2 separate regions of the Homo sapiens genome follow, and region 2 is linked to region 1. The links come from fine-mapping of genetic effects on gene expression. A gene starts in region 1. The other region holds a variant in brackets. All regions are shown on one strand. Distances are from middle to middle.

The links. PIP is the estimated chance that this variant, and not a neighbour inherited with it, causes the effect.
Region 2: its variant is fine-mapped to the expression of TMC2 in lung (TOPMed, PIP above 0.99). The same link has a PIP of 0.9 or more in breast, sun-exposed skin, unexposed skin and visceral fat.

Annotation. Positions count from the first base shown.
Region 1 is chr20:2,529,344-2,544,298 of GRCh38, reverse strand. It overlaps TMC2 (transmembrane channel like 2), which reads right to left and starts at 7,726. Exons shown (of 20, transcript NM_080751.3): 1 at 7,644-7,726; 2 at 6,983-7,030. The coding sequence starts at 7,677. LOC105372504 (a long non-coding RNA gene) reads left to right here and starts at 687. Exons shown (of 3, transcript XR_937204.3): 1 at 687-899; 2 at 2,175-2,361; 3 at 9,689-9,771.
Region 2 is chr20:2,617,775-2,632,729 of GRCh38, reverse strand. It overlaps TMC2 (transmembrane channel like 2), which reads right to left. Exons shown (of 20, transcript NM_080751.3): 17 at 8,334-8,459. It overlaps LOC105372505 (a long non-coding RNA gene), which reads left to right. Exons shown (of 5, transcript XR_007067502.1): 3 at 13,431-13,528; 4 at 14,145-14,224. Among named protein-coding and RNA genes, the nearest start is that of NOP56, 27 kb to the left of the region's middle. The variant C/T (reference allele first, on the strand shown) is at 8,068.

The sequences.
Region 1 (14,955 bases):
CCAGAGTTTTAAATGCTACTGCACTGCTGCCATCATTCAAATCATCCAGCAAGGGTTATCCACTAAAAAGAACTGGAAAATCTGGCTGGGTGCGTTGGCTCATGCCTGTAATCCCAGCACTTTGGGAAGCCAAGGCAGGCAGATCACTTGAGGTCAGGAGTTCGAGACCAGCCTAACCAACATGGTGAAACCCCGTCTCTACTAAAAATACAAAAAAAAAAAAAAAAAAATCAGCTAGGCATGGTGGCGAGCGCCTGTAGTCCCAGCTACTTGGGAGGCTGAGGCATGAGAATCGCTTGAACCCAGGAGGTGGAGGTTGCAGTGAGCCAAGATCATGCCATGCACTTCAGCCTGGGTGACAGAGCGAGACTCTGTCTCAAAAAAAAAAAAAAAAACTGACATGCAGGTTGAAACAGCTGCCACCAGAAACTGGATGTGAAACAACTGTTAACAGACAATTGATATGAAATGATGACCTCTCAAATACTGGTGAATATCTAGATTGACATACTGATGGCTTTTCCTTCAGCTTGGGCTGAAGAATGACCACAAGGAGAAATTGAGAACTCAAACCATCTTCCCTCATACTGAGTCTGGACACAGAGAGCCCAGCTATACCTTAGTGTCTGTATTAAGATGACTTTGTGCTACGCCTCTGCTTCATGAGCATGTCTTTATTTTTCTAGGCATCTCCTACCCAGGCAAATGTTGATTGTTCATTACAGGATTTTCCCAAAGACCTGTCAATTCTTCAATTTGGGCTCTAAGATTCTTTGAATGCCTCACCTCAAAATCCTGGCCATGCTGTTTATTGTGGACTATTATGTTGTGATTCTCACCCAGTCTCATTCCAGCTCTCACTTTGAAAGACCTGCCTTCAATCAAATTTCCAATTCTCAGTAAGTTCCGGCCTTCCTTCCCCTCTGTAAGATACTGCCAAAGCTTTGCCTGCTATAAGCAATAGATCGGTTTTGTCTTATCAACAGGTTGTGGGGTGTTAGGGAGCCAGCTTTGGACAATAACTTAGATAAATGTGTTTTGTTTTTATTTTATTTTATTTTTGAGACAGAGTCTCACTCTGTCACCCAGGCTGGAGTGCAGTGGTAAGATCTTGGCTCACTGCAGCCTCTACCTCCCAGGTTCAAGCAGTTCTCCTGCCTCAGCCTCCTGAGTAGCTGGGATTACAGGTGTATGCCACCTTGCCTGACTAATTTTTGTATTTTTAGTAGAGACAGGGTTTCACCATGTTGGCCAGGCTGGTCTCAAACTCCTGACCTCAAGTGATTCGCCCACCTTGGCCTCCCAAAGTGCTGGGATTACAGGTGTGTGCCACCATGCCTGGCCTTGTATTTTGTTTTAAAAAGAAAAACACAAAATACTAAATACTAAGTATATTACTAAATATAATATACTAAGTATAAAATACTAAAAATATAAAAATTAGCCAAGCGTGGTAGTGCTCGCCTGTAGTCCCAGCTACTCGGGAGGCTGAGACAGGAGAATTGCTTGAACCCGGGAGGCGGAGGTTGCAGTGAGCCAAGATGTGCCACTGACTCCAGCCTGGGTGACAGAGCGAGACTCTGTCAAAAAAAAAAAAAAATTGTGGACTAAAGAGAAAAGACTGTAAAAATATAGAAAGAAAAAGGGAGTGATAAATTATGGCTGGGATTGTTGGAAATGCTTCACAAAGAACTGATGTTTATGAAGGAGACTAGAAGACGCCATCCCAAAATATGCCACTTCGGCATAAAGATTATTTCAAGCTGAAGGCAATTAGATATATGTCGCTCCTCTGCCCTTTTGGACTAAAAGCAGGACATATATTTCCATTTGGAAGGGGTCTCCCTCTCCTATACTTGGAAGATAACTACTCCAGAGACAACTCTTAGCACCTGAGAAGACTCTTACCTGCTTAACAAACCTTACTGAATAACACTTATTTACCACACGTTTCCTAGTCACCTTCCATAACTTACCCAGAAGCCCCAAAACGCTTTTCCTTTGTCAAGCTTCTTCTCCACACTCTATCACCCTTTAAGATGATATATACCTCTAAGATAGTATATAAGCCCCAAATTCTAACCACCTCCTTGAGTCATCTTCTTTGTGAACTCTCATTTGTACATATGTAATTCAATCCTTTTTTCCCCTCTTGTTGATCTGTCTTTTGTCAGTTTGATTTACAGAGCCTGTAGTCACTGAACCTAGGAAGGTAGAGGAAAAAAATTCTCCTCTCCAACATTTACTCTGAAGTTTTTTTCAAATAAGAAAATTTTTTAATCAAACATGAGACTAATGGAAAGAACTCACATATCAATATGGGGGAGGACACAAAGACCGTTAAGCAAAACTTATGAACAGGTAAGTTACTAATGGGGAAATGCAATTAGGAAACGGCGGAAAATGCAGTTTTACTAGTTATCAAAGGAAATTTAAAATAAGTCAATAATGGGATTTCCTGTCTTGTTTATAGTATTACGTTTTTAAAATTTTTTATCCAGGACTAATGAGACTTGTTAAAATGCATATTTATTACTGGTCGCAATATAAATTGTAAAGCAACTCTTTATGCAGTTTGGCAACATGTAACAAGAGCTTTAAAATACTTTCTTTTTTCTTTTCTTTTTTTTCTTTCTTTCTTTTTTTTTTTTTGGTTTTGAGACAGAGTCTTGCTCTGTCGCCCAGTCTGGAGGGCAGTGGTGCAATCTGGGCTCACTGCAACCTCAACCTCCCAGATTCAAGAGATTCTTGTGCCTCAGCCTCCCGAGCAGCTGGGATTACAGGTGTGTGCCACCACACCTGCCTAATTATTGTATTTTTAGCAGAGAAGGGGTTTTGCCATGTTGGCCAGGCTGGTCTCAAACTCCTGACCTTAATTAATCCGCCTGCCTCGGCCTCCCAAAATGCTGGGATTACAGGCGTAAGCCACCATGCCCAGCCTAAAAATACTTTCTGATCTGTTAATTCCACCTGTAGGAGTCAACCCAAGCCCAAGAATCTTCAATGCAACATTATTTCTATTATAAAAATGGGAAATAACCTAAATATTCAGTAATAGAATAATGAATTAACCTGTGATTTATCTACTATGTGGAATATTTTACAGCTCAATTAAAAATAATTACCATGAAGTCTTTAATACATACTTAGGGGCTACTCTGAATCTTGAAGGATGAACAGGAGTTTGCAAGAGAAGAAGTGGGTAGAGAAATGGAGGGGGTGATTGTGGTAGCAAGTTAGGAGGATTCCAGGCAGAGGAAACAGGGGATTGAGGGGCCCCAGCAGAAATGCCAGGGAGTCTGGGGCATAGGCGTCCAAGGCAGAGCTGCGTCCCGGGTGTGTTCTGGTGTGGGAGGCAGGAGGAGAGGGGTACACGCCCACAGGGAGCTGGGTTGAAATCTGGAGGGTAAGGGTGTGATAATGGAGCATGTTTGCTGGGGCAAGGTCTACATCAAAGGGTCACACTAGCAACATGGAAGAAGGTGATGTGGGGAGGGTGACACTGCTCTGCAGCTGCTACAAGGAAGGTCTTGTGAGCATACTGGCTGTGATTGCTTCACTTATTTTAAAGGCAAAAAGAGGCACCAAACATGGGTCTGAAGCCATCATTAATAATCTCCATGTCTTTTTTTTTTTTTTTTTGAGAGTCCCTCTCTGCCGCCCAGGCTGGAGTGCAATGGCACCATCTAGGCTCACTGCAACCTCCGCCTCCCAGGTTCAAGCGATTCTCTCACCTCTGCCTCCCAAGTAGCTAGGACTACAGGCATGCACCACCAAGCCTGGCTAATTTTTGTATTTTTAGTAGAGACAGGGTTTCACCATGTTGACCAGGCTAGTCTTGAACTATTGACCTTAAGTGATCTCCCCACCTCAGCCTCCCAAAGTGCTGGGATTACAGTCATGAGCCACTGTGCCCGGCCATGTCCATGTCTTTGAGACTCGGTTTTAAATGCTGAGGTTTCTGCCAGGACTGATGAGATAACTGGCATAGGTGCATTGAAAAGTCTTGCGGCCAGGCACGGAGGCTCACACCTGTAATCCCAGCACTTTGGGAGGCTGAGGCGGGTGGATCACGAGGTATGAGTTTGAGACCAGCCTGGCCAAGATGGTGAAACCCGGTCTCTACTAAAAATACAAAAAATTAGCTGGGCGTGGTGGCAGGCACCTGTAATCCCAGCTACCTGGGAGGCTGAGGCAGGAGAATCACTTGAACTTGGGAGGCAGAGGTTGCAGTGAGCTGAGATCACATCACTGTACTCTAGCCTGGGCAACAGAGCAAGACTCCATCTCAAAAAAAAAAAAAAAAAAGAAAAGAAAAGAAAAGAATAGTCTTGTGTGCTATTTGCGGGAGTGAGCTAAGAGAACCTGTCCTGTATTTATCATAGAGCAGGTTTCCTTAGCCCACTCCTGCCCCAACCTCTTTCTTCTTCTCACTCCCTGTGGAAAAATAGTCTTTGATAAGACAACGTAAAGAAAGACTATTTTTGCATAATTTATCCAGGGTAGGAAGCTAGTCAGTGTTAGCCAGTGAGGTATGATTTGTCTTACAAATGCTCCAGCGCAATGCTCTGGAAGGCAGTAGCCCCCTGTTGCAAAAGGGACGGAGCAAAACAAATATTATCACAGCCATGACCCCTAAGAGAGCTCTAGGACTGAGTTCAGTGCTCAGAAAGGGCAGAGAAGCAGAGATCAAGGCAAGGGATCATGGAGAAGGGTTCCCTGGGGTCCCATAAAGATCAGCTCTATGTTGCTTGAAAGGACTGAATAGGAACGTCATTGTTTGCATCCTCTTCTGAGCTCTCTCTGTGTCCTCAGTCAGCTAATACAATGGTTTTCATTGTGGTAATGAACTGTACCAAGCATACTTCCCAGCACTGTAGATATAATTTGGTGTTACAATTTTTTTTCTGAGCTGTAATTCCTGCTGTAATTTAGTTCTCCAACTGAACGAAATTCACATGGAATGTGGAAAACAAGCCAGAATTTGCCCTTCAATCTTCCCCAGACCTCTTCAACACAGAAAATAAGCTGTTTTTTTCTCTTTCATAATCAGTTTTCAACAGACTCCACATAATGCATAATTTAGGAACTGGAAAGGCAGCTGTCTTGCTAGGAAGGCCTCCAAGCCCAGCACACGCTCTCCTAAATGTAACAGGCCTCCTCCTATGTAGCACCTGACTCGGTCAGAGAATTCACAGTGCAAAACACAGGCCGAGGAGAGGCTGCGGCAGCCCTCCAGTCCCGTGATCTCAACAGTTCAGTGCACTTACCAAATGATACAGGAGGAGGGAGAGTTCTCATCCTTCTTTTCAAGGAACACAGTAACAAACTGTAGCTATTCTGAGAAAAGAACATTGTATTCTTAAACTTTTATTCCCTCCTGGTAGAGTATAAAGGGAAGGATGAGAATATCAGGTCCCGTCGCAGGTGACTCCAGAGGAGATTTAAAATGGAAACCTTCATGGGGCTGGGTTTCAGTTAATTCAATATATTCCCAATGTTTAACTTTACTGCACCCCTTCACCACTTAGATCTGTGAAGTGAAAATTCTGACCAATTTCCTGTGTTCTATGGGAAAGGGAAAACGGCAGCGGCAACGTGGAATATTTCAGTAGGAAAGGGTTTGTGTTGTAGGCAAAATGGTCTTCCATTTCAGTCCTACTAAGGACTACTGCTCACAGGGGAGTCCCGCACAGCACAGCCCTGCAGCAGAGGCAGAGGGAGGCCAGGCTGGGTGCGGAAGGGACGGCATCTGGATGACTACGAGGGGAGTGGGGTGTGGAGAACCAGCCTGAGCATCCTACAGGCAGTGGTCACTACGGGAGCACCGTGGCCCGACCCCCGGGAGGAAGGTTTCTCGTCTGGCCACCCTGGGGCATAGAACTTTCTCACATTTGCTCCTTCATCTTTGGATTGAGATAAAGAGTGGATGAGGCAGGCAGGTGGGGTAGGAAGAAGGGACAGTGGCTGAGGCAAGTTCCGGGATAGGGGCCAGGAAGGGCTGTTGAGATGCCATGGCTGCACCCCCTGCCAGCCTCTGCCCAGCTCTTCCTTGCCTCCTGCTCCTGGGTCTCTCCCCTTGTAACACAGCGGCCTCACTGAAGCTCAGGCTCCCGACAACCAGACAGCAGCGGGTCACAGGAGCGGAAAGGGCAGATGAAGTGGCTCCTGGGGCCAGCTCCCTACTGGCCAGAGTGGGGCCAGGACAGGGCCCTCCCACAGGAGGGAGTGGAAAGGGCCCTCCCTCCCAGAATGGGGGAGGAAGGAGATCTCTTCCAACCCCCCAGAACCCCATCACTCCCCAAGATTCTGGTTTCTTGCCTACTAGTGTGGGGCGCAGGACCCAGCCCTGCCTGGGACGTGAAGGGGGAGAAAACAGCATCGCATCCATAATATTTTGTGACATGAAGATGCCCAGCCTGTGAGTGTGGCTTCTGCCCCTCTCCCCTGAACCCTCAGTCTCAACCAAGGGTTTTCTCTCCCGCCTATGGCTTCCTTGGGCTCTCCCACTTCTCCTGGAGCAAGTTGGCTCCCTCACCGGCTCACGGGAGAGCTGTGGTCACATTCCCAGTGGGAAGGTGATGGAGCACCCATTATGCCTACTACTTTTTGGAGGTTAAGAGTGTTCCTCCTAGAGTCCGGGGGCCTGGATGTGAATCTGGCCACACCACCCGCCAGAAGCCTGCACCGAGCTTCCCTGCCCTCTGTCTGGTGAATGTTCACTGCTTCCCAAGGCTCAGCTCAGAGTGTCACTAACCCTGGGAGTCTCCCCTGACACCGAGGGCTGAGCAGCACCTTCTCTGAGTGGTACTCTGCCCCCTCCCATGTTAAACACCTTGCCTCCCAGGAAGGCTCCATGCAGGGTGTTGAATGAGAGGGAAGGAGATGAAGGAGAATGTTGGATGGGTGGCTGGACTGTTGGGCTAAGCAGAGGGCACCCAGGCACTGCAGGCTCCCCAGAGACCCCACCACCCCATCTCACCTGTGTGTGGAGAGCCGCTCTTCACCCGCCCTTTCACTCCGCCTCGTGCTGTAAGAGACAGGATTGCTGACAAATGGCTGGCCTCTGGTGAGTCCCCCTCCCTGCAGACCCCCGGTCACTGTGGGACCCCTCAGCTGATTTGTGGCTGCCTCAAACTGGGACCCAGCTCCAATGATTTTACTCAGCAAATTATAGAGTCCCCTGCCTGTCACATTTGTCTGATACTGTCAGTCATGAGGTCAGAACATCCCCCACCCCCTGCCCTGCACAGAGACAGAGACAGATAGAAATCTGCTGAGGGGCTTGCTCGGAACAGGCAACCCTAACCGAGACAATAGGTGGCTGAGACGCCCCAGCAGGCTCTGAGGAGCATGCATCGGCCGTGACAGTCTCCAGTGCTGGCCTGAACACAGGTGCTGTGCACAGGTTGTCTTGAATCCTTCCAGTAGCCCTGCAAGGAGGTGATGACTACCCCCATCTCATGCGTGAGGATCAGAGAGGTTGAATAACCAGCCGAGGTCGCTCAGCGCACAGGGGACAGGCCCTGGACTCAAACCCAGCTCCTCCCTATGCCTCTGAACACCATATGTGCTTCCCCCATCCCCTGCTGCTGCCCAGGAACCCTGTGGGCGGGCCCCGCAGGATCAGGACGTGGACTCACCTTCCTCTTTCAGGCCCTTTACCTGGTGGCTCATGGTCAGCAGCACTGCTGGGGTCCTGCACAGGCTCACGCAGCGTGCTCCTGTATGCACGCCTTCAGCCTGGGCTGCTTTCCTGCCCTCATGGTGGCTGGCCTCCCTTCCTAGACCTGACAGCAGGCGGGGCTTCTTGGTTTGAGATTGAATGTGGAGGTGGGTGAAGTTTGGGGGAGAGAGACGGGTGAAGGAAGGCGACGAGTTCCCGGCCCATCAATCCGGCCACACACTCCTCTTCTCAGGTTTCCCTGCAAAGAGGCAGCATGGCCTCATGTTTCAGGCATCAGTTATACATGAGGGGCCCTGGAGGGGCCAGGAGCTGCAGGCTTATCTCCTGGCAATGATGCCGCTGGCACTCTAGCCAGAGGAGGTGTGAGGAGCATCCCAGGCCCTCTCCCACTATCTTGAGTCCCTGATTGGGACAAAGCACCAGGGAAATTCTAGAATGTTTGTTTAAGTTATTACTTGGGCTTCTGTTTAAAATGCAGATTCTGGCATGTGGTGGTTCACACCTGTAATCTCAGCACTTAGGAAGGCAGAGGCAGGAGGATTGCTTGAGCCCAAGAGCTCAAGACCAGCCTGTGCAACGTAGTGAGACCCCATCTCCACAAAAAGAAAAATAATAATAATAAATTTTTAAAAATAAAATGCATACTCCCAGGAGTGGCACTGGGCGTTGGAATCAGTCAGTCTGTGCCAGGCCCTGGGAGCCTGCACTGTGGATCCTGCTGCAGGCGTCCTGAGCCCACACAGATGAATGTTCCCGCTCAGCCCCCGCCCCCTCCCTCAGCAGCTTTTCCTCCCTGGCTTCAGGGAGGCACAGATTTGGCTGCTTTGAAAACCATCACTAAAGTGTCAGAGGGACCCTCTGGAAGGCAGTCATAAGGTCTCAGAGTGTGGAGTTCTTAATCTGGAGTCCCTGGAACCCCCAGAGCTGTGGATGGAATTCTGTGGGTTTGTGAATAGTGATGGAGAAAATACTACACTTTCACTTTTCCTAGCCTTAACTGCGATTTAGCATTTCCCTCAATCATGAATGTAAGCAAAGATGTGATTTTTGTCTCAGCAAAAGTCACAGTTATTTTTTTTCCCAATTAAACCACTGGGGATGTCTCAAAATATCTTACATGTTATCACAACTTCAAAATTATGATAGTTAGAGACCTGCCATGAAATCTTGTTATTTAATTAGGAAGCATATATTGTCATTATATGAAAGATATTTAAAGTGATTTTGATGCCTATTTCAGGATCATTGGTCTCCTTTGTAATCCTAGTGTTTTATTTTATGGATTTAATGTCTATGTTCTGAAAAGCGGTCTGTGGCTGGGCGTGGTGGTTCACGCCTGTAATCCCAGAATTTTGGGAGGCCAAGGCAGACGGATCACCTAGGGTTGGGAGTTCCGGACCAGTCTGGCCAACATGGTGAAACCCCATCTCTACTAAAAATGCAAAAATTAGCCGGGCGTGGTGGGATGTGTCTGTAGTCCCAGCTACTCAGGAGGCTGAGGCAGAATTGCTTGACCCAGGAGGTGGAGGTTGCAGTGAGCTGAGATTGCACCACTGCACTCCCTGGGTGATAGAGTGAGACTCTGTCTCAAAAATAAAAAAAAATATAAAAAGGGGTCTACGGACCTTACCAGGATGCCAAAGGATTCTATGACACAACAGAATAAAAAGCCTTCCCCAGGGCAAGTCTCCTGTGGGTGTCAAGGACAGACCTAGCCTCTGATCATGCCCATGTACTTTCTCAGGGGTCAGGAGTAGGAGTGCCTGTCCTCATGCAAGCTTGGCGAGGGAAGGGGCAAAGGAGCTACCTCTAAAATGCACGTGCAACGGTTCATCTCAAGCTTTGAAGCTTTTCTCTTTGTCCCACACCTTGATCTCCGACCCAACTGGTTCCTGCAGGGCCGCCCCAGTCCCCGGGGCATGAGGGCAGTGGGAGGATCTCAGTTGCATTCTCTGGCATCCATACTGCAGGACTGCAGCCGCAAATCCCTCTCCCCACCAGGGCCATGCCAGTGCAGGACCCCGGTCCATGTGAGAAGCAGCACGGGCAGCTGTGCAGCCACAGGACAGCGTGGCCCAGAGGACTGGTGAGTAAGGTTTCTGCTGGGGGTGCCCCAAGCGCTCTCCCCTGATGAGTGAGGACCCCCAGCAGCCCTTTACCCTGCTCTTTTTTTTTTTTTTTTTTTTTTTTGAGACAGCGTCTGGCTCTGTCGCCCAGGCTGGAGTGCAGTGGCGCGATCTCGGCTCACTGCAAGCTCCGCCTCCTGCCTTTACCCTGCTCTTGTTGTTCTCTGTTGCCAGAGGAGAAAGGCTTTCTACAACACCTTCATCTCCGGAGAGAAATTCCCTCCAGATAGGACTATCAAATTCCCTTGTACCTGACTGTCCACACAGTCGATAACTCCACTTTTCTCCTCACAGATAAAAATGAGCACCCACTGGGGTCAGAGTCAGTTCTCGGCTCTGGGGATTCATCAGCAAATGAAACAGAGACCCTTGTCCTCAGGGGCTGATGTGTTTTTGCTGTCTGGTGGCTGGGTTTAGCCCTTGGTGTCTGAAGGAGTGATCTAGGAATTGGCAGATTTCTTCTCTCTCACAACAAACCCTGCTTTCCACAATTATTTCTAAGGAATTCAAAAATCCAAGTTTGGAAGTCAGATACTGAACACAGAGTATTTTGCTTTTTTCTTTGCACGCCACCTAGATCAATTCCAATGCTTCCTGAGATGAATACACATTCAGGCAAGAGGGAGCAGGTCTCACATCAGAGAGTGTGAGAAAGAAAACGACAGTGATGTCTTAAAACTATTATCCTCGTGGCATGTGTGTTGCACACTGCTCTGTGCTAGGTCCTGCCTGGGGCACTCTTGCCCCAACCTCTCTATTTCTCACAACAGCCCGGTGAGACAGTGTTGTCACTCCCATGTGTCAGATGAAGAAAATGAAAAAACGCGGAGCCCTTGTGTCTCCTGGGCAGGTCTGTGACAAGAGATCAATTGAGTCTGGGTCTGGAAGCTGGGATATGTGGCTTTGACTTGGGCTGACCATTAAATCCCCAAGTGCCTTCTTGTGAAGGTCACTTCTGGGCTGTGGTTTCCTTGTTGTTCAGGGTTAGATTCCGTAGTGGACACTGCCAGTGATCTGCCCAGATTCCCTCTCAGAGCAAGTGCACCCATCCTCCAGGGCTAAGGCACATAGCGGACCCCTTCAACGGAGGAGAATTGCCTTTGGCCGAGCAGGGGCTGCTGAACCCTGAGGTAATCCCATCACCATCCCCGGATTAGCCTACAGCCACAGATGGATGAACAAAGAGGTATGACAGCCCGGCCTCTGTCAAAAATGGGAACAACTTATTGATGTCATTCACATCCCAGAGCTTCCTGTGAGATGAGCCAGAAGCTGGACTCCAGTGGGGTCTCTGCTCATCCCCTTCTCCTGCCCTGTCCTGCTTCTTGCCTCTTCTCCTGAGAGCACCCTCCACCCCCGCCTGCCCCGTCTCAGGCTCTGCTGTTAGGGAACCAGGCCTAATGTTGCCTTTTCTAGAAAGGCAGCTGCTCGTCCTCCTGCATAGGCTGGGGAGGGAACTGAGGGAGCTAGGCTGGTAGGGATGAAGGGCATGGGGAGGTGGGAGCAGGGATGCTGATGCTCACTTAGACCAAGGGGGAGACAAGGTCCAAGAGGAGAGTGGGACAGGCCTGAGCACCCCTAGGCTGGCCCATCTGCTTGGACATAGAATCCAAGGTGTATCTCTGAACCAAATGCAAGGATTCTATAACATGTCTGTCCTTCTAGCCTCCAATGACTATTAGGATTCGACTGCCTTTTCCCCAGTCTTCACTCACCCCCCGCCCGAGGGTTAATATTAAAAGCAGCAGAGCGGCCTACATAATTTGCAGGGCCCAGTGGAAAATGAAAATGTGGGGTCCCTTGTCCAAAAAGCAAGAAAAATGAACAGTTAAAGATACTAAAATACAAAGCCTTTCTCTTTCTACTATTTAACGTCATTCTGAGAAAACTCAAAATTTTAAATTATTTGCATGGATCCCACTGTTCATCTGTATATCGAGCAATAACAGGTTTCAGTGCAAGTATAAGAGTACTTAACTCCTATGTGGAATCACTGAAATGACACAATTTGTATTTTGTAGCTTGTATATGTGCAGGATTTCAGGCTTATCAGGACTGTAGAAATGCTGCACAAAGCCAACTCAATGGTTTTACTTCACGTCTTGGTATGTGCATATTCTACCAATGTTTCCTGCCTTTGGCTTACTGATGAGTGAAAAAGAACTGGGAAAAAAAAGGAATTATGGGTTTCTCTATCTTTTCCTTTTCTTCTGGGTCATTATTGTCAGCCTACGTGGTTGGCTAATCCAGGGAAGTAACTTGAATGAAAAAGAATAGGATAGGGTCCCTTAGTTGTCATGCTTCTTAGAACACCACTGCCTTCTTTTAGTGTTTGAAGCAAGTTCTGGATTAAATGGGAAGTGTAGCCCCTCTGGGCTGGAAGCATTCCTACATATTTAACCACAGATATTACACCCCTGCCTTGTACTGGCTTTGAGTCTTGCTAAACTCCCATGCGTCGTGGGCCCACTGGAATTATGTGCTCATGGGGCATCATATATGGGATACGCAAATAGGGCGGCATATGTTCCTATCTCCTCTGCTCATGTACGCACCCCATTGTCCCATCAGACTTCCCCCCCTCCTCCTTCTCCTTCTCTCCTCCTCCTCCTTCTCCTTCTTCCTTCTTCCTTCTTCTTCTTCACAGGCTCAGGCTATAATGCAATGGCATGAACATGGTTCACAGCAGCCTCAACATCCTGGACTCAAATCATCCTCCTGCTTCAGCCTCCCAAGTAGCTGGGGCCGGAAAAAAGCACCACTATGCCCAGCTAATTTTTTTTTTTTGTTGTTGTTTTTGAAACAGAGTTTTGCTCTGTCACCCAGACTGGAGTGCAGTGGCGTGATCCTGGCTCACTGCAACCTCTGCCTCCCAGGTTCAAGTGATTCTCTTGCCTCAGCCTCCTAAGTAGCTAGGATTACAGGAGTGTGCCACCATGCCTGGCTAATTTTGTATTTTTAATAGAGATGGGGTTTCACCATGTTGATCAGGCTGGTCTCAAACTCCTGACCTCAAGTGATCCATCCACCTTGGCCTCCCAAAGTGATAGGATTACAGGTGTGAGCCACTAAGCCCAGCCTTAATTTTTAATTTTTTAAAATTATTTTTTATTTTTGAGATAGAGTCTCACTCTGTCACCCAGGCTGGAATTCAGTGGCATGATCTCGGCTCACTGCAACTTCTGCCTCCCGGGTTCAAGCAATTCTCTTGCCTCAGCCTCCCAGGTAGCTGGGATTACAGGCGTGTGCCACCATGCCTGGCTAATTTTTGTATTTTTAGTAGAGATGGGGTTTCACCATGTTGGCCAGGCTAGTCTCGAACTCCTGGCCTCTAATGATCTGCCCACGTCGGCTTCCCAAAGTGATGTGATTACAGGCGTGAGCCACCACACCTGGCCCAATTAACTTTTTTTTTTTAGAGATGGGTCTCACCGTGTTGCCCAGGCTGATCGTGAACTCTTTAGCTTATGCAGTACTCCTGCCTCAGCCTCCCAAAGTGTTGGGATGACAGGCGTGAACCACCATGTCCAGCCCAAAAGATAAAATTCTTAAGAATTTCACTATAGGCTGGACGCGGTGGCTCACGCCTCTCATCCCAGCACTTTGGGAGGCCGAGGCAGGTGGATCACTAAAGGTCAAGAGTTCGAGACCAGCCTGGCCAAGATGGTGAAACCCCATCTCTACTAAAAATACAAAAATTAGCCGGGTGGATGTGCCTGTAATCCTAGCTACTCGGGAGGCTGAGGCAGGAGAATCCCTTGAACCCGGGAGATGGAGGTTGCAGTAAGCCAAGATCACGCCATTGCACTCCAGCCTGGGCGACAGAGCGAAACTCCGTCTCAAAAAAAAAAAAAGAATTTCACTTTCACTTTTTCAGCACAGTATTAGACCAAGTGCAGGGCGCTTCTGAGTGTGGAGCCATGAGCAGCCACGCGCAGGCTGCACACTCAGGAAGCCCACCCTTCAAGACAGCCACAGCTGAGAGTTACCTGTCACTGCCTTTCTGCCAGGAACTTGCCAACCCCTTTAAATGACTTATTGAATCATCACAACAGCCATTTGAGGCAGATTGTCTTATCTTTCTTTACAGATGAAAAAATGGAGGCTTAGATGTGATGTGTCCCAGCAGTCCCTGGAGACAGGATTCAGCCCTGTTGACTGTTCTTACTCCAGAGCCCAGGCTTTTATTCCCTACACTCTTCTGACCTCTTGGGAAAAACCTGGACCACACCATATCCTCCTTTCCAAAGGTCCCCGTGTTTGCCTCCTACCTGGGCACCGGGCTGCTGGCCCTGCCCTTCAGTTTCTCTCTTGCATGGCAGCTAAGGCAGCCCCCAGAGCAGAGGTCTGACTTCATCTCCCCTCTACTTAAAACCCTTCGCTGGGACTCCATGGCCTAGGGGTAAAACCCAGACTCTCTAATGTGCCATCCAAGGCCCCGGAGAGCTCCAACACCCTCCAGCCCCCTCTGCCTCTCTCTTTCAGTGCAGCTATTCCTACCCACTGATGTGACTTGCTCTCATTCGAGGTACTAGAACTTCTCTTTGTCTTTGCTCCCACTATCCCCCCTGCCTGAGGCACAACTATGAAGACTGCTGACTTCAGGACATGTGGCAGACCCCTGGGCACACTGCCCACCCAGCATTTTACAATATGACTTGGAATGATGTTTCCTAGCAGAGCGATAACCCTAGCAAACTGCCAGGTGGGGTGTGGTGTCTGAGCAGAGCACTCCAGCCTCTGGGAAGACTCCCTCTCTGCTCTGCCCTTGGTTTTTGCCTCATCAAGATTTGCCTTTTCTTCATGGTGGTCTTGACATGTCCGTAACTGGAAACCTCTTGATTTCACACATTTGCAACTTTTAAGAAAAAAAAAAAGTGACACAAAAATGTGTTTTTAACTTTTTGTGAAATATTCCTTTTCTTTTTCTTTATTCTTCTTAACACAATACTTTAGCTAATACTATTTGAGTAACATTTATTGGACATGCAACTCAAACATTATTCTGAAAATTAATAATATCAGAGTGTTGTGCCCTAATGTTATCAGGATAGTGAATGTCCCTATTGCTGGAGCTGAGGAGGGTGAACTCTGTGCTAATTCTCTTTCATGGATGTGGCTTGCTCAGAGAAAATGAAACCC
Region 2 (14,955 bases), 88 kb before region 1:
TAATCCCAGCTACTCGGGAGGCTGGGGCAGGAGAATTGCTTGAGCCCAGGAGGTGGAGGTTGCAGTGAGCCAAGATCTCGCCACTGCATTCCAGCCTGGGCAACAGAGTGAGACTCTGTAAAAAAACAAAAACAAAAACAAAAAACCCCAAAAATCTAGTAAGACATACAAAGAAAAAAGAAAGCCTGGCCCATACACAGGGGGAAAAGTAGTCAATAGAAACCATTCCTGAGGAAACCTTGATGCTGTATTTAAGAGACAAAGACTTTAAATCAGTTATGTTAAATATGATCAAAGAATATGATCAAAGAACGATACAAAACCATTTCTAAAGAACTGAAAGTATCAAAATGATGTCTCACCAAATAAAGAATATTAGCAAAAAGAAATAAATAAAATAACCAAATAGAAATTCTGGAGTTGAAATCTACAATAACTGAAATAATAAATTTTCTGGAGGTGCTCAACATATCTGAGATGACAGAAGAAAGAACCAGCCTGGCCAACATAGTGAAACCCATCTCTACTAAAAATACACAAATTAGCTAGGTGTGGTGGCACATGCCGGTAATCCCAGCTACTCGACAGGCTGAGGCAGGAGAATCGCTGGAACCTGGGAGGTGGAGGCTGCAGTGAGCTGAGATCATGCCACTGCACTCTAGCCTGGGTGACAGAGTGAGACACCATCTCGAAAAAAAAAAAAAAGAATCAATGAACTTGAAAATAGATCAGTTGAGATTATCCAGTCTGAGGAACAGAAAGAAAAAAGAATGAGGTAAAATAACACAGCCTATGGGACAACAGCAAATGTATCAACACATGCCTAATGGGAATCTGAGGAGGAGAGGAAAGACAGAAAGGGTCAGAAAGAATATTTGAATAAATAATGGCTATTTTTAATCAGATTTCATCCCCAAATATGATGAAAAAATATTAATTTACACAGGAAGCTCAACAAATTCCATGCAGGATAAACTCAAAGAGATCTAGTCCTAGACATATCATAGCAAATTGAAAAAAAAAACAGCCATAGTCAAAGAGAGAATCCAGAAAGAGAGAAACAAATAATCATATACAAGAAAGCCTCAGAAAGATTAACAGTCAATTGTTTTTTCATATAAACCATGGAGGCCAAATGGCAGTGGGATGACATATTTGAAAGATTGAAAGAGAAAGACTATCAACCAAAAATTCTAAATCCAGCAAAACTGTTCTTCAAGAATGAAGGAGAAATTAAGTCATTCCCAGATAAAAACCAAGAGAAGTAATCACTAGCAGACCTACTCTGTAAGAAATGCTAGAGGGAGCTCTTTAGGTTAAAACGAAAGGACACTAGACAGTAACTTGAATCTACATGAAGAAATAAAGAGCACTAGTAAAGGTAACTACATGGGTTAACATGAAAGCTAGTATCAATGTAGTCTTTGTAGCTCTTTTTTCTCCTGTCTTATTCAGTTGGCATAAAATGTATAAAGATGTAATTTGTGTGGCAGAAACAACCTGAAGGAGAGTGGAGGGAATGGAGTTGTACAGGGACAAGGTTTTTGTATACTATTATAATTAAGTTGGTATTAATTCAAAGTAGTTTGTTATATTAATTATAATCTCCAGGGCAATCACTGAGAAAATAACTAAAACAAAATATAGTTAGAGAAATGACGTGGGAACTAAAATTATGTACTAAAATATTTAACCCAAAAGAAAGCAGTAATAGAGGAATAAAATAACAAAAATACATAAGACATATAGAAAACAGCAGACATAAATGTTAACTTATTGGTAATTAAATGTAAATGAATCAAACACTCCATATAAAAAGCACAGATTGACAGAATGGATAAACACTATGCTTCAGCTATATGCTTTTCCAAAGAAGCACACTATATTTTATTTCATTTATTTATTTAGAGAGAAGGTCTCAGTCTGTCACCCAGGGTGGAATGCAGTGGTACAAACATGGTTCACTGCAGCCTCAACCTTTTCAGTTCAAGCAATCCTCCACCTTTGTCGCCTCCCAAGTAGCTGGAACTACAGGCATGTGCCACCACACTCAGTTAATTTTTAAAGTTTTTGTAGAGATGGGTCTTGCCATGTTGCCCAGGCTGATATCAAACTCCTGGGCTCAAGCAATCTTCCTGCCTCAGCCTCCCAAAGTGCTGGTATTACCAGCATGAGCCACCACACCCAGCCAAAAAATGCACACTTCAGATTTTTAAGGTAATAGTAGATTGAAAGTAAAAGGATGGGAAACACATTAAGACAAAAATTGTTAGAGACAAATAGGATTATTTTGTAATTGTAAAAGGGTCATTTCATCAAGAAAATGTAATAAGTAAAAACATATATGCACCTAACAACACAGCCTTAAAACATACGAAGCAAAAACAGAATTTAAGGGAGAGATAATGGACAATCCAATAATAATAGCTGGAAATTCAATGCTTTACTTTCAGTAATAGAAACAATTAGAAGGTCAACAAGAAAATAGTAGACTTGAACAACTCTAAAAGTTCTATCCAATGCAATCGACTCCTTTTCCTGAGCCTTGAATTTATCAAGGCTCAAGTTCAAGATTTATTGTCTTCTACAATCCTAATTCCTTCTTCTTCTAAATATTTTTTGGACTTATTATTTGTCATTATTTTTAAGTCTTACTGATTAGGTGTTTTAAGTTCAGTGTCAAAGCATATTTGAAAGTGGTTCCTTATTGTCTGCATTAGGGATCAGCAAACTTTTTCTGCAGAGGGCCAGGCAATAAATATTTTAGTCTTTCTAGACAATACATTCCTTATCACAACAAGTAAATTCTGTCTTTTTCTGTGAAAAACAGTCATAGATAATAAATAAATGAATGAGCATGAATATGTTCCAATAAAACTTTATTTAACAAAATCAAGTGTGGTCCGGATTTAGCTTGTGGACTACAGTTTGATGACCCCTGGTCTACACCAAAGGAAAAAGATTCTGGCTTAGATAGCCATTATACAGGCTGTTTACTGCATAAAAGGCACCTGACTAAGGGGGTGACTGCTGGCTGAAATCTATCCATATTCTGTTTGTCAAATGTGCCCCTTGGCATGGGCCTACCTCCGTCTGAAGGAGTGGGCACCTTTAAAAAATTTGCACAAGGTACTATATGGGCTAGTAATGGCCCTAAATTCACCACCACCTTTTGAGGTCACTTTTTTTTTTTTTTTTTTACTTCTGTAAGAAATCAATAATTAGAAAAGTTACTCCACTTTCCTAATTATTGATTTCTTATACCTATGTTACAATGACTTACATTCCCTGGTTGTTTTCTTCCTTATTTCATGAATATACTTATCTCAACTCTCCAAAAAAGCAGTACTGTGCTTAACTGAAAACATTAAAAGCACTCCCCACCCTGTAAATGCAGGAAAAATACAAAAATATATTTCATCACCAAATATTAATTAACTTGTTTTTCCCATGGAAGGTACTAATTAATCCTACAGAGAAAAAAAGAGATCTAAGAATTAAATAAAATATAACATTTTCATTGTTTACAAATGAGAAAATGACCTGGAAGATTCAAGAACTTTGGTTGAGTAAATATGATAAACAATACACTCATAGGGTGACTGTATTAGCCTGTTTTCTTTTTTTTGAGATGGAGTCTCACTCTGTCGCCCAGGCTGGAGTACAGTGGCGCGATCTCGGCTCACTGCAAGCTCCGCCTCCCGGGTTCACGCCATTCTCCTGCCTCAGCCTCCCGAGTAGCTGGGACCACAGGCGCCCGCCACCACGCCCGGCTAATTTTTTGTGTTTTTAGTAGAGACGGGGTTTCACCGTGTTAGCCAGGATGGTCTCGATCTCCTGACCTCGTGATCTGCCCGCCTCGGCCTCCCAAAGTGCTGGGATTACAGGCATGAGCCACTGTGCCCGGCCTTATTAGCCTGTTTTCATACTGCTATAAAGAACTACCCAAGACTGAGTAATTTATAAAGGAAAGAGATTTAATTGACTCACTGTTCAGCATGGCTGGTGAGGCCTCAGGAAACTTACAGGTGGAAGGTGAAGGGGAAGCAAGGCACCTTCTTCACAAAGTGGCGGGAAGGAGAAGTGCCGAGCAAAGTGGGAAGAGCCCCTTATAAAACCATCAGATCTTGTGAGAACTCACTCACTATCACAAGAACGGCACGGGGGGAACTGCCTCCATGAACCAATTACCTCCACTTGGCCCCGCCCTTGAAATGTGGGGATTATGGGGATTACAATTCAAGATGAAATGTGGATGGGGGCACAAAGCCTAACTATATCAGTGACTGAATACAAAATTTATATATAGAAAATAAATAACATTTACATAGAAAAACAAAAACTAGTTAGAAAGTATGATGAAAGAGCTATCCTAATTTATCATAACAAAAAGAGAAATGCAGAGGAATACATTTAATAAGAAATGTGCATGAAATTTATGAAGAAAACTTAAAAATATTGAGAGACATAAATGAAAAAATGATAAGGAATACAGTATTCTTGGATTGGAAAACTTAACAACATAGGTGTGCCAATTCTTTCTGGATTTTTTTTTTTTTTTTGAGACAGAGTCTCGCTCTTTTGCCCAGGCTGGAGTGCAGTGGCATGATCTTGGCTCACTGCAACCTCTGCCTCCTGGGTTCAAGCAATTCTCCTACCTCAGTCTCTCAAGTAGCTGGGATTACAGGCACACACCACCACAGCTGGCTTATTTTTGTATTTTTAGTAGACATGGGGTTTCACCATGCCGGCCAGGCTGGTCTCAAACTCCTGACCTCAGGTGATCTGCCCACCTCGGCCTCCCAAAGTATTGGGATTACAGGTGTGAGCCACCATGCTCGGCCTTCTTTCTGAATTCTAATAAAAATGATCACAGATTATTTTTGTTGTTGTTTTGGTGCTAGGGAGCCTGCCTCTGTGGAAAATCAAATGAAGAAAGAAAAGACTTCTTTTTCTGGTCTTGACTAAGGGACTTGTATTGGTCCAGCTCTCCAGAGAAAAACAACTGTAAATGCTGAGCAAAATTTACAAAACTGTAGTTTAAGACATGGGAGAGTGACAGGCAGACTAAAGGGACTTGATGCTTGAGAGAAGGGAAGCATGTGAGGTGAGCTCCACATTCCTCCAGGGTTTCTCCCTGAGAGTATTTTCCAATTTGTGACCCAGAAGCAGAGTCCAAGCAGAAAGTGGAAATCTTACAATGTGGAGAAGATGCAGGTCAGAGTTAATTACTGCCACAGTCTTTGGGACTTGAGGGGCAGAATCCCAGAGAAGAACAAATTGCAGATAAATAAGCCAAACTCTGTGTACAAATTGCCCTCAAATGATTGACCAATTCTTCAATTGCTTCAGGAAGCCCAGAAGAAAATGACACCAGAGAGGCTGAAGAGCAGAGCAGAGATTTCACAGTGGCTGTAGCAGTACTACTGGAGAAAAAGAATAAGCAAAGACGGAAGAATTGGGAAAAGAGAGAATGGGTTTTAAGCCCTGCCAAGGTGGAGGGTGGTGGAGGCCAAAAGAATGAGGGTCGTGATCAACTCAGTATACGACTGGAGGCTATATGAGTAAACAGCAAGCTGTTCTCATGAATGCAGGATGTTGGCAAGCTGACAACTATGTCGGCACCCAGAAGGAATGCTGAGGGCAGTCACGCCCCAGGCACAGTGTTTCTTGTGGTTAGGCACATCTGAGGCCTGTTAGCAATGATGTGAACCCGTGATCAATCAAACAGCTGACCAATCGTTACCTCCTCCTCCCTGCTCTTTCTACCCAATAAATACGAAGGGCTGTAGAAGCTCAGGGCTGCAGAAGCTCAGGGCTGCCTTTGCTCACTAGAAGCAAGGAGTCCCCTGACCCGTTCTTTAAAACAAATCCTTTTTTTCTTTGTCTTCATTTCTGTGTTCGTCCTACTTCGTTCAGTCCCGTAGTAACTGTCACAGGAGGGAATTGGTAAACACTGTAGGCTTTCAGTTGAGACCCCTAAAAGACTGTGCTCAATAGTAAGGATCACATTGTAGGAGTAAGGTCAGTGTCTTGGAAATAGGGCAAAACTGAAATAAATCAGCCCTGAGAAAGCCCAAAGCTAGCAATAGCAAACTATTTTCCAAAGATGGCCACAATACTATGACTCCTGTCTTACATGTGCTTCTAGAATCTTGTCATTGCCTCATCAAAAGATAAGTCTATATTTCTTTCTCTTGAACCTGGGTATCCCTTTGTGATTGCTTCAATAGAGTATGGCAGGAGTAAGTAAAGATGCCATGTATATCCACTGCATTCTCTTGGGATGCTTGCTCCTGAAACTCAGCCACCATACTATGAGGAAGCCCAAGCAGCTTGTGAGAAGGAAGTGAGGCCTCCAGTGCCAGCTGGCCAGTCATGTGAGTGACCATCTTGAAAGTGGGCCCTCCAGCCTCCAGCTGAGCTGACCCAGATGATGTTGAGTAGAGAGGAAAAGAATGATTCCTGCTAAGTCCTACCCAAATTGCAGATTCATTAATAAAATATTATTTTTCAGTTTTGGGGGTTGTTTCTTATGTAATAATAGATAGCTAAAACATCAAGTCTTGACAGGATTAAGTGATCTCCTAGTATTCCATTTGCCCTTCAGGAAAAAAAACCCATCCCTTTGGGGAAAGATAACATTATTCACAGCCTCTATAATTTTTCATCCACATGTCTGACATCTAGTAAAAATTACATGCCATGATAAAAGTAGGGCTGAGGATAAACAAGAGGAAAACAAATGACAACAAAAATACACCCAGGTGGTTCAGATATTGGAATATCAGACTGGGATTTTAAAAGTAATTATAACCACTATGTTCAAGAAAATAGAAAGCTGGAGAATTTCACCGGAGAGTTGGAATTTATAAATAACAGTCCAAAGGGAATACAACCACTTTGGAGAGCAATTCTGTAAGATCTAAAAAGATTGAAGAAACACATGCTGATGACCCACAATTCTGCTTCTAGATGTCTACCTTAGAGCAACTCTCAGAATTGTGCAAGGAGATATATACAAAATGTTGGCTGGAGCGCAGTTTGCAATAGCCGAAAAGTGGAAACAGCCTAACTATCCCTATGCAGAGGAATGGATAAACTGTGGCTTATTCATGAGATGGAACATAGTAGAGCCTTCAAACATGTGCTCATGTATCCGCATGGATAAATCCCCCAACATAATGTTGTTTGAGGAAAAGCATGTAATGTGAGTCATTCATGAAAAGGTTTAAAACTCCGGAAACAGTACTATACACACATGTGATTAAAAAGTACAAAATATGCATGGAAATAATTAAATCTAGTCTGTATAATAGTTACCTTTGGGGAGGGAGGAAGAAAGAAGGATTGAGTGGGGCTTGAAGTGCATCTGTAATGTTTTATTTCTATTACGAAGAAAGATAAACCTGAAGTAAATATTGCAAAATGTTAACATCTGTTGAATCTTGTGATCGTGTACATGGTTGTCTGTACTCATTTGTATGCTGGGAATATTTCATAATTTTTAAAAAAGCATGCCAAAATAAGATTTTTTTAAATAAAGAAAAAATGCTAACATTTTTACTAGCACATTTTTTGATGGCAACAATTCCAATCCAAGACTCTGGCTTCCTGCCTTTCTTCCCTAGTTCTTTCCTTGAGCATTTACTGTTTGCCTGCTATGCTCTAGGCATTAGGCTGGCACCGGGGATACAGAGATTTTCGAACTTGTTCTCTAATGGTTGTTGAGGGGGACAGTGATGAAGGAACCAGCTTGTTCCAGTGTATAAGCTGCTCCATCGAGTAGTGCTGTGGGCCCAGCCAGGATCAGGCCGAATCACCGTTCAGCTTCCTGATAGGCTCAGAGCCCACAGGACTTTGATATTTCTAGTGAGCATTTTAGTGGGAGTTGTTGCAGATACTGTCAGGGCTCACCCAAATTTTCAGTGTGCTCCAAAAGACTTGCACTTGCTGGTGCCCTCATCTCTGTTACCAGAAGCTTCCCTTCCCTCTTGGACCCCTCACTCACACCCCTTGAAGCCATTTTACCCATGAATGACGCTGGGAGCTGGTCTATAAATGCCT[C/T]GGATCCTTTGCCCTTAGGGAGGGCTGAGTCTGAGGCACACTGCCTCCCAGAATTCTCACAGTGATAACCATGCATTTTCCTTTCCCTTCCTTGTCTCAAGTCCTCACCCCCTCCCTAATAAAATACTTACACTTGAATCCTTGTCATGGATTCTGCTTCTGGGGAGTGCAGACTAAGAAGGCAAGATGAAAAGGACCTGCCAAGGAAGTCTCAAATTCAAGGAGAAGTTTCCGTGGGGTGGAGCCATGGGTCCTGGCTAACTTACAACATCAGCAGGATGGCTGGGATGATCAGGCCTGGATTGGCGAGGAAAGCAAAGATCTTGCCCAGGAAGGTTGGGAAATCGTTTTCAATGGTCTCTTGGAGGACATCGTACATTCTGTTTTTCCCACTGGAAAAAGGAGAGGACACAATATAACATGCTGCCATGTGCCTGTGGCATTCACAGCTGTGTCCATGGCCCCCCTACCCAGGTCCAGGGCTGCTGCCTGCCACTGCTTTCCTGGAAGAACCAGAGCTCTGCTCCAAATGAACTGCAAGTAAAAAATTCCCCCTGAGGGGCTGCCATTCTGGCTAGGGTGACAGCTGGGTCGGCACACGGCTCACCGGCTTTCTATCCTAAGTAACTTACAACCTCTTAGCCTTCACTGGTCTTTTGTGTCTGACACCTTCCTCAGCCAGAAAAAAATGGTTTTCCTCATGTATTCTAACTGGAGAAATTGTCTGTGTTTGTAGCTACCAGGCCAACATGGAGCTTCCTTTGGGCCTGGGAAACAGTTCTGCAGAAGCTGATGTGCTGGACAACCTGAGTGTCTCTCAGAAATACCTAGAATTAACCTTCAGATTTTAAGTCTAGGAGATATTGGATCACCTAGGACAGGCTCCTGGACAGTTCACAACTGTAATTTTTATTTTCTTCAAATACCTAAGAACCATTATGCAGATTTACTTCTACAAATGCTGGCCCAGAGACTCCTGGATGCTGCTGGCTCTTGGTTGATAATTTTGGTGCCAAGAGGTGGAATACGGGGTTTGAAATTCCTGGTTTAAATCCTTGATCCCCCATTTATCACTGGTGAGACACGTGGACAATTATTCTCTCTCTCTCTGTCTTTTTTTTTTTTTTGATGGAGTCTCACTCTGACACCCAGGCTTGAGTGCAGTGGCACAATTTCAGCTCACTGCAACCTCCACCCCCGGATTCAAGCAATTCTCCTGCCTCAGCCTTTCAAGTAACTGGGATTACAGGTGAGCGCCACCACGCCTGCCTAATTTTTTGTATTTTTAGTAGAGATGGTGTTTCACCATGTTGGCCAGGCTGCTCTCAAACTTCTGACCTCAAATGATCCGCCCACCTCAGCCTCCCAAAGTGCTGGGATTACAGGCGTGAACCACTGTGCCCGGCCTGACAATTATTCTCTTTCTGCTTGTATTCATATCATGCCCTGGTTCTCCCCACGAAAGCTGTGCTGTCTGATGTGGCTATTAAAAATAAAAATTAAGATGAAGTCAAATTTGAAATTCAGTTTCTTAGTTACACATTTCAAGTGCTTAATAGTCATATGATTAGTAGCTGCTGTGTTAGAAATGCAGATATGGAATGTTTTCATCATTACAGTAAGTTCTATTGGATGTTCAATATCTGCAGAAGTTCAATACCTTTGGGCAAGGTATTGAAAATTTCTCTGCCCCAGTTTCCCCATCTGTATAATGTAGTATAATAATACTATAGTATAATATGGTATTTTAAGTATAATAATTGTATTTATCTCAGAAGATTGTTTAGAGGATATAGATGAGAATTGATATAAAACATTGAGTGTAGTGCTGTTAAGTTATAAGCGCCCTTCAAAATTTTGCAGCTAAACATTTTCTGTGTAAAGTATAGATGAGGAGTTCACCGACAATGGCTCATGGACAAATTCAGCTTGTTACCTGTTTTCTTTTTCTTTCTTTTCTTTTCTTTCTTTCTTTTTTTTTTGAGACAGAGTCTCTCTCTGTCGTCCAGGCTGGAGTGCAGTGGTGCAATCTCAGCTCACTGCAACCTCTGCCTCTGGGTTTCAAGCAATTCTCCTGTCTCAGCCTCCAGAGTTTACACACAATGCCTGGTGGATTACAGGCAGGCACCACTACGCCCGGCTAATTTTTGTATTTTTAGTAGAGACGGGGTTTCGCCATGTTGGCCAGGCTGGTCTTGAACTCCTGACCTCAGGTGATCCACCTGCTTTGGCCTCCCAAAGTACTGGGATTACAGGTGTGAGCCACTGCGCCTAGTCTGTCACCTGTTTTCATATGGTCTGTGAGCTAAGAATCATTTTTACATTTTTAAGTAGTTGAAAGCAAGTCAAAACAGGAATACTATTTTGTGACATGTAAAAATTGAAGTATAAAATTAAAATTTTAGTGTCTGTAAATAAAGTATTATTGGAACACAGCCATGCTCACTCATTTTTTGTGCTATAATGACAGGGAAGAGCAGTTGTGTCAGAGACCATTTGTGGCCATCTCATTGCTTACAACTGTTGCCCAGCACACCACAAATTGCAATGACGCAGTTATAGCATGATGGCATTTCAAGTGCCAGGCACATCACTGTATGACAATGTTTCATTTATTATTATTATTATTTTTATTTCCAGTGCATACCCGCCATGTACAAATGAGAAAAGTTAAGTTTACGTGTTAGGCTTTTATGTGACAGTTGAATGTAGATTATTTTGTCGTTGAATTAGATGGTGTATCAGATTCTAGTGCCTGCTGTTTGTCACGCTGGTGGCTTAAAACAATACAAATTTAATATCTTACAGTTCTGGAGGCCAGAAGTCTGAAAGGGATTCACTGGGTTGAAACTAACCTGGGGCAGGCATAGGATAACAGTTATAAACTTTCCAATACCAAAAAGGAGAAAATGGAAGGAAGAAAGAATCACCAACCTCAAGCAATTTTGAAATCCAATCAGCCAAGCTCCATTAGGGGTTTTATTTTTTATTTTTTGAGACAGAGTCTTGCTCGTTGCCCAGTCTGGAGTGCAGTGGCATGATTTCGGCTCACTGCAACCTCTGCCTCCCGGGTTCAAGTGATTCTCCTGCCTCAGCCTTGCGAGTAGCTGGAATTATAGGCACTTGCCACCACGCCTGGCTAGTTTTTGTATTTTTAGTAGAGATGGGGTTTCTCCATGTTCAAAACCAACAGCACAGAATCTTTAAATCTCTGCCTGCTTCTATGGTCACATCACCTTCTATTTTTCTGTAGTCAAATCTCCCTCCCTCTCCTTCCTTTTTTTTTTTTTTTGTTGTTGTTGAGATGGAGTCTCACCCTGTTGCCCAGTCTGGAGTGTAGTGGCATGATCTTGGCTCACTGCAACCTCCACCTCCCGGGTTCAAGCGATTCTCCTGCCTCAGCCTCCCGAGTAGCTGGGATTACAGGCACGCACCACCACACCTGGCTAATTTTTTGTATCTTTAGTAGAAACGGGGTTTCACCATGTTGGCCAGGCTGGTCTTGAACTCCTGATCTCGTGATCTGCCCGCCTCAGCCTCCCAAAGTTGTGGGATTACAGGCGTGAGCCACTGCACCCGGCCTCCCTCCTTCTTATAAGAACACTTGTGACTTAGGGCCCACCTGGCTAATCCATGATGATATCCCCATCTCAAGATTCTAGGAACTAGAAAATGAGTTATTTACTCTCAAAAATAAAATGGTGGGACAGGCATAGGATAAAAGTTGTAAACACTCCATTACCAAAAGGGAGAAAATGGAAGGAAGAAAGGAATCACCAGTTCCAAGCAATTTTGAAATCCAATCAGCCAAGCTCCATTAAGTTTTAAAGTCCTGAGAATAATCCTCTGGGCTGCAGACTCTGCCCTACTGTGCCCATAGCTTTGCCCTTGTGGGTTCACAGTTCTGCCCTTGGAAGAACACTTCCACCCTTCCTTCTTCTTGAAGGATAGCACATGTCTCAGCTGAGTAAATTTTATCAGTCTGTTTCCCGCCACAGAATTCTGGGAGGCCAATGATCTGCCTTTATTTTGTCTTCTTTCTGTTTCTTTCAGTCCAAGTTGGTAATGTTTCCGCTGATATAATATTGTCAAAAACTGTGTGAGTTTTTCATGTATGTCATGAGAATGTACTCTGTTAAAGAAGAGAGTCCCACATGATCTTTTCTGGATAATCCTATTTCTATTCCTGACTTCTGATGTGATGGTTGAGGCGATGCATTAGTCACACGATTAGTCAGAGTTTTCTGTGTGAATGATATTCAGACCTTTTGATCTTTCAGAAACACTAGCAAAAGGTTATCCAGACTCACTCTTGGCTTTCTTTTTACAGCACATTCTCATGACAGTGAATCTAGTTTTAGCATATTTTGCAATCTAGATAAGGCTGAGAATTTCCAGAATCATCAAATCCTGGTACTTTCTTGTTTATCAGTTACTTACTCAACATACCTCTTTCCTTGCACATTTTCTATAAGCAGCATGAAGAAACCAGGCTGTACCTTCAATACTTTGCTTGGGAATCTCTTCAGCTAAATACCCAAGTTCTGTTTTTTTCTTCTCTTCTCTTTTCTTTTTTTCTTTTTTGAAGCAGAGCCTTGCTATGTTGCCCAGGCTGGAGTGCAGTGGTGCAATCATGGCTTATTGCAACTTCCACCTCCTGGGATCAAGCAATCCTCCCACCTCAGCCTCCCAAGTAGCTGGGACTACAGGCACGTACCACCATGCCTGGCTAGCCAAGTTCCTTTCTTATAAGTTCAGTTTTCCATACAACTGTAGGAGATGGTTCTTATCATAGTATAATTGTCCCTGCTGACCTCCTACCCAGTGACAGATGGGAAGCTGAGAAAAAGGGGGCTGGCATTTGCACCCAGGGCCCAGCCCTCCAAACCTTGCTTAGGAAGAAGCCAACAGAGGCTTCTTCCATTCGGTTCTCCTTTCAGCCTGGCTAAATCTTAGGCCATCTGCACTTCAGCACATTCCTTCTGTTCTAGACTGATCCCCTCCTTCTGTGTGAACACTGTTTTCCAGATCACACCCTGCTGGAACACTCCTGCTAACATCCCTGGGCTCCAACCATCACAGGCCTTTATCTAGTAAAGTCCTTTATGAACTGAGAAAGACCGGATCAGCATTTCTCAAAGTGTGTTTGTGCGGGACATGAGTGACTTTATTTTACATGCTAATCTGCCTTGTAACTTCTAACTAACCCTGAGTCTGAGAGTGCCTCCCACATGACTAGCAGATGTATTACTCTTTATGTAGGAACTCTTATTCCTACATAAAGTTTCCTCCAAAACAACCCTTGATGCTGCTGCAGAAATCACAGGCTGTGATGTTCAGAGCCACCTATACATTCCTTCCAGAGCACGCATACTTTCCCCAAGATAGAAGCCCTGGGCCTGGGGGATTGAGGTGTGGAGATCTACCTGTCTCACGGCTGCTTGTGACCATGCATCTGACTGTAAGTTACCCCTAATAAATCACCCAAAGCCGACAAACTGCATTTGTCTCCTTCCTCCTTTGGATTCTAGGCTCTTTGGGCATTTAGGGGCTGTTTTGCATATACGACCCTTTTACGGGACAGGGTTTCTCCTCATTGGCAGGCAGGGTTGGGACTAGAGTGAGGCGGGTGAGGCCCTGAGTGCACAATTTAAGGAAGTAATGCCCTCAGGGTTGCTCATGTGCAGTGTAGGGCGTCACTCACCTGCCTCACCCTATTTCCAGCCCTGGATGAGTGATCCATGCAGAAAGGGTTCTGTGGTCAATAAGGACGGAGACACTAGCTTACAGGTGTTACCTCATTGCATGATTCTTCAGAGCCTTTAACAAAGGAGTGTGCATTGAGCATTTCTAAGTGAGATAATGGCAGACAGAAGGGGCAGTACGTCCTAAACTGCTTTAACCACAGAACCTCTCTTTACGGAGTTGGCAGAGGGCTTTGTTTTCAGAAGGTCAGGCATTTGGAAAGAGAACAGTAGATGCACATTATCTCTTGATCTACCTCCTTACATAATTATTTGTCTTTTTATACAATATCTAGTCTCCCAACTAGCTTGACTTATGTATTGAACCCCCAGGCCAATGCTCTGGAGAGCAGAGAGCTCAGTTGAGGTCTGTCAAGAGTCCACTGCAGCTGCTTCACATTTAAACGGCACGTGTAAGTGTATGGTAATTCATCCTCAGAATATCCACCATTACTTATCCTATGGTAAAGTAATCCCAGGTAGTAAGTTATCCATGTGTTAAAAGGGTAGAACTGTGCTGTCGAATATGGTAGCCATTAGCCATGTGTGGTTATTTTAATTGAAATTAAGAACGAAATCCTGTCATTTGCAGCAACATGGATGGAACAGGAAGTCATTATGTTAAGTGAAATAAGCCAGGCACAGAAAGACAAATATTGCATTTTCTTACTCACATGTGGGAGCTAAAAAAGTGGATCTCATGGAGGTAGAGAGTAGAATGAGGTGATCAGAGGTTGGGAAGGATAGAGAGGAGTGGGGATGAAGTACGGTTGGTTAACTGGTACAAATATACAGTTAGATAGAGGGAAGAAGTCCCAGTGTTCCATAGCACAGCAGGGAGATGACAGTTAACAATAATTCATTGTATAATTTCAAAGTTCCCAACACAAAGAAAAGATAAATGTTTAGGCCAGGCACGGTGGCTCACGCCTGTAATCATAACACTTTGGGAGGCCGAGGCAAGTGGATTGTTTGAGGCCAGGAGTTCAAGGCCAGCCTGGGCAACATGGCAAAACCCCGTCTCTACTAAAAATACAAAAATTAGTTGGGCATTGTGGTGCATGCCTGTAGTCCCAGCTACTTGGGAGGTGGAGGCATGAGAATCGCTTGAACCTGGCAGGCAGAGGTTGCAGTAAGCTGAGAT